2 separate regions of the Homo sapiens genome follow, and region 1 is linked to region 2. Evidence: fine-mapped expression QTL. A gene starts in region 2. The other region holds a variant in brackets. All regions are shown on one strand. Distances are from middle to middle. Region 1 overlaps TSPAN15 (tetraspanin 15). Region 2 holds the start of TSPAN15 (tetraspanin 15).

The links. PIP is the estimated chance that this variant, and not a neighbour inherited with it, causes the effect.
Region 1: its variant is fine-mapped to the expression of TSPAN15 in esophagus muscle (GTEx, PIP 0.92).

Annotation. Positions count from the first base shown.
Region 1 is chr10:69,501,042-69,504,058 of GRCh38, forward strand. The region is part of intron 5 of TSPAN15 (tetraspanin 15); the gene reads left to right. Among named protein-coding and RNA genes, the nearest start is that of TSPAN15, 51 kb to the left of the region's middle. The variant G/T (reference allele first, on the strand shown) is at 1,251.
Region 2 is chr10:69,450,388-69,452,887 of GRCh38, forward strand. TSPAN15 (tetraspanin 15) reads left to right here and starts at 1,078. Exons shown (of 8, transcript NM_012339.5): 1 at 1,078-1,303. The coding sequence starts at 1,208. RefSeq lists enhancers at 1-99, 100-717, 667-806, 1,598-2,098 and a silencer at 927-1,236.

The sequences.
Region 1 (3,017 bases), 51 kb after region 2:
AGAGAGAAATCAAGGAGGATACCCAGGTTTTGGTCTGAGCCACAGGAAAGACGGGGCTGCCACTGCCTGAGAGGGGAGGACTGCAAGGAGGCAGGCTGGGTGACCAGGAGCTCACCGTGGACGTGGGGGGTTTGAGAGCCTGTTCAGCATCCCATCAGGGGTGTCAAAGATGCGGTTGGATATAGGAGTCTGGAGTTCTGGGAACGACTAGGCAAGGGGTGTAAACACGGACATCATCTGCAGATAGGGTAGAATCTAAAGACAGCATCTGAATGAGAGCACTGAGGTAGGGAGGAGCCTTCCCCTGGCCGGGGTTATCTGACCCTGTGTTACACATGACCATTGAGTCTCCCTGTGCCACCACACCTGGATGATTTTCTCTAAATGTGAAACAGGGCGTTCGCTTCCTCCATAGAACTGGTTGATTTGTGTCCAGATCTATTTATTTTACACTGTACTATTCAACCTGGGATTTGAATGAGTACACGGGAAATATGTAGTGTAAAAAACTAAAATAGCATTAAAAATCAGGACTGTGGGAATTGTATTCTCAGATAGGAGGCCTAGATGATGGAGAAAAATATAAAATCCTGCTATCTAAGCCTCAGGACCTCATGGACTCACTGAAAAGGAGCTGAGCCTCGTGTCTGGTGGCTTGGAGCAGGGCTCCCCTACCTCCAGGCCATGAACCAGTACCGGTCAGTGGCTTGTTAGGAACCAGGTCGCACAACAGGAGGTGGGCAGAGGTTGAGGGAGCATTGCCACCTGAGCTACACCTCCTGTCACATCAGCAGCAGCATTAGAGTCGCATAGGAGTGTGAACCCTATTGTAAACTGTGCATGCAAGGGACCTAGGGTGCATGCTCCTTATGAGAATCAAACTAATGCCTGATGATCTGAGGTGGAATGGTTTCATCCCGACACCATCACCCCCCACCCCCCCGCACCCCATCCTGTGGAAAAATTATTTTCCTTGAAACCAGTCTCTGGTGCCAGAAAGGTTGGAGACCACTGGCTTAGAGTTTCCTGGCAACCAAAAGGAAAAGGGAGACATGGTCTGTTACATTGTTACTGTTCAGCAGAACATACCAGCAGAACATACCAGTTCTTCAGGGAAAGTAACCTTTTCCCTAACACTCAGCTTTAAAAGAAATGTCTTATATGAGCTTCCAATAGAGGATTTGAGCCATAGAAGTTCACATAGGGCTGTAAAATCTGGTTATACCAGGATATATCCCTCGGAGATGTTG[G/T]TGCAGAGGGCAGCGTGCTTCTACATTAAATGGCTCCAGACTGCTGTGCCTGCTGAGCTCTTGGGACCAATTTTCACGTACCTCCCCTCCCTTGTTGTTGGCTACCCCTTGGGGGCCTGTCGCGAAGGCCCCTCTCCCTGTCCCCATTAGCTGCTCAGTCTTTTCAGGGTGAGAGGATGCACACACAAACATTGCTGTGATCTTCTGGCTGCCCAGGAGTCCCCCTTCTGACTTCCTGTCCTGTGGCCCCGTGCAGGATGGAAGAGGCTACTGGACCCTGGTCTTGGGGCCTGTGAACTTCAGCAGAGCCTCTTGCAGAATATCGATTCTATGGTCAGGCAGGTAAACCCAGGCAGGCTTTACTTTTGGAAAGACTATGGATGCATCGTATCCCCTCACCCCTTGGTGAGGGGCTCTCCTGGCAGGGTGAGGTGAGTCCCCCCTGGGCCTGGAGAAGGGTTCTGGGCTCTGATGCCAGAGAGGCCTCTGCCAGTTGCCTGTGTGCTAAGAGACTCATCCCCCGAGGTCACCAGAGCTGGCCCAGTGAAGTCACTCTTGTCACCTCCCTACGTACCATGCAGCTTACCTATTTGTTATGTTCATTATCTCCCTTTCTACAGTGTAAGTTCCATGAAGGCAGGGACTTTGTCTTGTTGTTCTGTATTTCAAGTGACTAGAACTGGGATTGACATGCAATAGGTGCTCAGTTAATATTTGTTCAATGAACAAATGAATGAACCAATGAGATGGAAAGCACTCACTCCCATCATGTGCCCGTGCACCTGCTCTCCAGGCCTGACCCTCTCCATAGGGGTTGTGTTTATGGCCTGGAAGGGCCAAAAACACTGGCTGACTAATGCCCAGTGGGCACTGGGCATGGCTGGGACTGAGGCTACCTGGAGAACCAGCTAAACCGAGGGAGGTCGTCTTGCCTGCACATCAAGCCCTGACATTTAGAATGACCTAGATGACATCTGAGGCCCAACCCTCTCTCGGAAGGAGAGAAGACACCCTCCCTTTCCTTTGCAGGGGCTGGAATTGTGAACAAATCACGCCAGCCAGCATTCTTGTGCTCCTCCATGTGCCCAGCCCCGTGATAAGCACTTTATATGTGTATCTCACTTTATGTCCAAAACAGCCCTAGGAGGTGGGTTCTGTGATCATCACAACCTATTCATTCATTCATTTTCTCAGTTAACAAATATGTATTGAGTACCTCTGCGTGCCAGTTCCTTAGCAGCCCACCTAAGGTTGGGCTCTGCTCCTAAGTGGCAGAGCAAGATCTGGACCCAGGAAATGTGACACCAGAGGGCACGCTGGGGGCTCTGCTGTTGCCCTCCTGAGTCATCACTGGCGCCTGCAGCACTCACGGCAGCGTTCACTTACATGTAGAGCAGCGGGGCTGGGGGGGACGGTCATGGGCTGGACCAGGAAGTCTCACTCTCTTCCCTGGTGGTTGGAGAAGGAGACCCTGCGGGGCACAGGTGGTGATGGGAAGTGCCCGCGGCAGCCTGTGAGTTAGGGCCTGCCTGGGGAGGGGTTTGATGAGGTCTAGGGCGTGACCACAGGTTTCCCTATGCCTAAATTAATCAGTAGTCGGGAGTTCTGGAGAGCACCTCTCTTCCCAAGAAGGAAGTTTTGGCAGCACTCTCCGCTGGTGGAGCAGTGGTCTATGGAACGGAAGCATGGCCAGGGGCCCTGCCCTGGACCTCAGGTAAACCACAGCTGACCCTGTGCCAGCTGTAGTCTGAAGTTTTCCTCCCCAAG
Region 2 (2,500 bases):
AGTAGCTGGGACTACAGGCATGCACCACCCTGCCCGGCTAATTTTTTTTGTATTTCTTAGTAGAGACAGGGTTTCACCACGTTGTCCAGGCTAGTCTCGAACTCCTGACCTCAAGTGATCCGCACGCCTTGGCCTCCCAAAGTGTTGGTATTACAGGCGTGAGCCACCGTGCCCGGCCTTGTTTTTGTTTTTGTTTTGGAGAGAGGGTCTCACTCTGTCTCCCAGGCTGGAGTGCACTGGCACAATCACGGCTCACTGCAGCCTTGACTTCCCTGACTCAAGCGATTCTCCCGCCTGTCTCCCAAGTAGCTGGGACAACAGGCGCGCCACCGTGCCTGGCTTTTTATTTTTTTTAATTATAGAGTCGGCGTTTTGCCATGTTGCCCAGGCTGGTCTTGAACTCCTGGGGCTCAAGCCATTCGCCCTCCTCAGCCTCCCAAAGTGCTGGGATTACAGGCGTGAGTCACCGCGCCAGGCCTTCAACCTAGTTTGAAGATGGGGTTTCCCGGGAGGAACCCTTCCCAAGGCTGGGTTATCACCTGGCAAAAGAAGGGGACTTCCGAGGTCGTTTGGTGAAGGCCTTCAGCAGATCTGTTTCACGAGCAAACTTCAGACTCCAGCTCCATGGGGGCCTATTAGCCCCACCCTGGTCTGCCTCCCTGAGCCTTCCTGAGCCGAGCAACTCCACTTCCTTATTCCATTCACGTTTAGCACACTCATTTGCACTTTCAACACCTGGGCGATTAATTCTTGCCCTTTTCCCAAAGTTTTCCCTCTTGACAAGAGGAAAGCTTGCATTTCTATGTACCCCGATTAGGCACGCTCGCTCTCTCCTTAGAGCACCTCTGGTTCACCTCTCCCACGCCCCCTGCATTAGCACAGGCGTTTCCAGAGTTGCACGCGAGCTCATTTGCAAGACCGTCTCCCCCTCCCATCCCTTCTTGGTCCCCTCTAGGGCCCAGGGCAGCAGCCCCGCCCCTGGCCCGCCCCCTCCCAGACGCTAGGCAGCCGCGGCCTCCCATTGGCCGCCAGGGCTGGCAGGCTTCCCGGCTGGGGCTGTGATTGCCGCGCTCCAGTGTCAGTCCCGGAGAGAACGCCGGTGGCGGGGCTGGTAGCCCGGCAGCCGCAGGTGGGGCCACGAGCGCTGGCTGAGGGACCGAGCCGGAGAGCCCCGGAGCCCCCGTAACCCGCGCGGGGAGCGCCCAGGATGCCGCGCGGGGACTCGGAGCAGGTGCGCTACTGCGCGCGCTTCTCCTACCTCTGGCTCAAGTTTTCACTTATCATCTATTCCACCGTGTTCTGGGTGAGTGACCCCAGTAGGGCCCGGGGATGGGGGTGGGGACCCACAATCCGGCCGCCCCCTCACTGGCCCGGGGTTGGGTCCACACTTAGCCGCTCCAGGGAGTGCGCGGGTGAGCGCGCGCGGACTCCTTGTCTTTCTACCTCACATTCGGGCGGCCAGAGCTCAGCCTGAATTTTCAGCCGCCCTTTCGGGAGTGTGAGAGCCGGTTGTCGACCGACCGAGTGCCACCTGGCTCACCTGTGTGCACCGGCTGGGCGGTTTGCCCGCTGTGCGTCCGCTGGCCGGCTGGCTAGGCTGAGGTGAACGCGCTGGCCGCGCCCACCACGCCTACCCGGTAGGACTGACTGCCTCTGCATCGGCCTGTGGAGCTTAAGTAGTTAGGATTTGCAGTCGGGGTTGGGAGACCTGGATTCCGGGTCTGGTCCCTGCTAGTTACTTGCTGATGCCCCTGAGCGAGACGCTTCCCCGCTCCGTCTTGGTTTCCTCTTTGGTGGATGCACGTGCCTCCTGCGTGGCGAGGAGAAGTCCACCAGACGACGTCTCCTGCACACCTAGGTGCTCAGTTTCCGCTGTCGCTGGGCTTTACCTCCTCCTCTGCCTTGTTAGGGGGCAGGATGGTAGTGTTTAGACATGAACCAAGCTTTGAATTCCGTCGCTCCGAGTGGTCTTTTATTTTATATTTTATTTTTTATTTAAAACATTGCTAATCTCTGTATCGTTCCAATTTCAGTTTGTGCGTTTCTGAAATGAGCACTTGCTGAGTGATCTTGGGGAAGTTACTTCATTCCTCTCGGCCATGGTTTCCTCATCTGTAAATGGACACAGTAATTATATTCAACTTGTAGGATGCTCGCGGAGATTACGTGAAATAGGCCGGGTATGGTGCCTAGTGAAGAGCTCAAGAAGTGTGAGACATTATTACTATCGTGGGCAGGGAATTTGGACACCTGTGGTGTAAGCTGCCCCAAGAGATTGGGTTTCTGTAAGGGCGTTTCATATTAGGCTGGGCCCTATTCTAGAGATGAGGATATCTTCCTATAGGCCAGCTCCGCCCCTGTCACTCCAGAATCGCTCTCTGCCTGCAGTATGCCACAAGAGCAGACTTGCCCAGGGACCCAGGGTGGTCACTGACACCCCATTCCCACCAAATACACACACTCTCCCCTGGTGTCCTCCTTAGCCCCTTGCTGGGTCTCT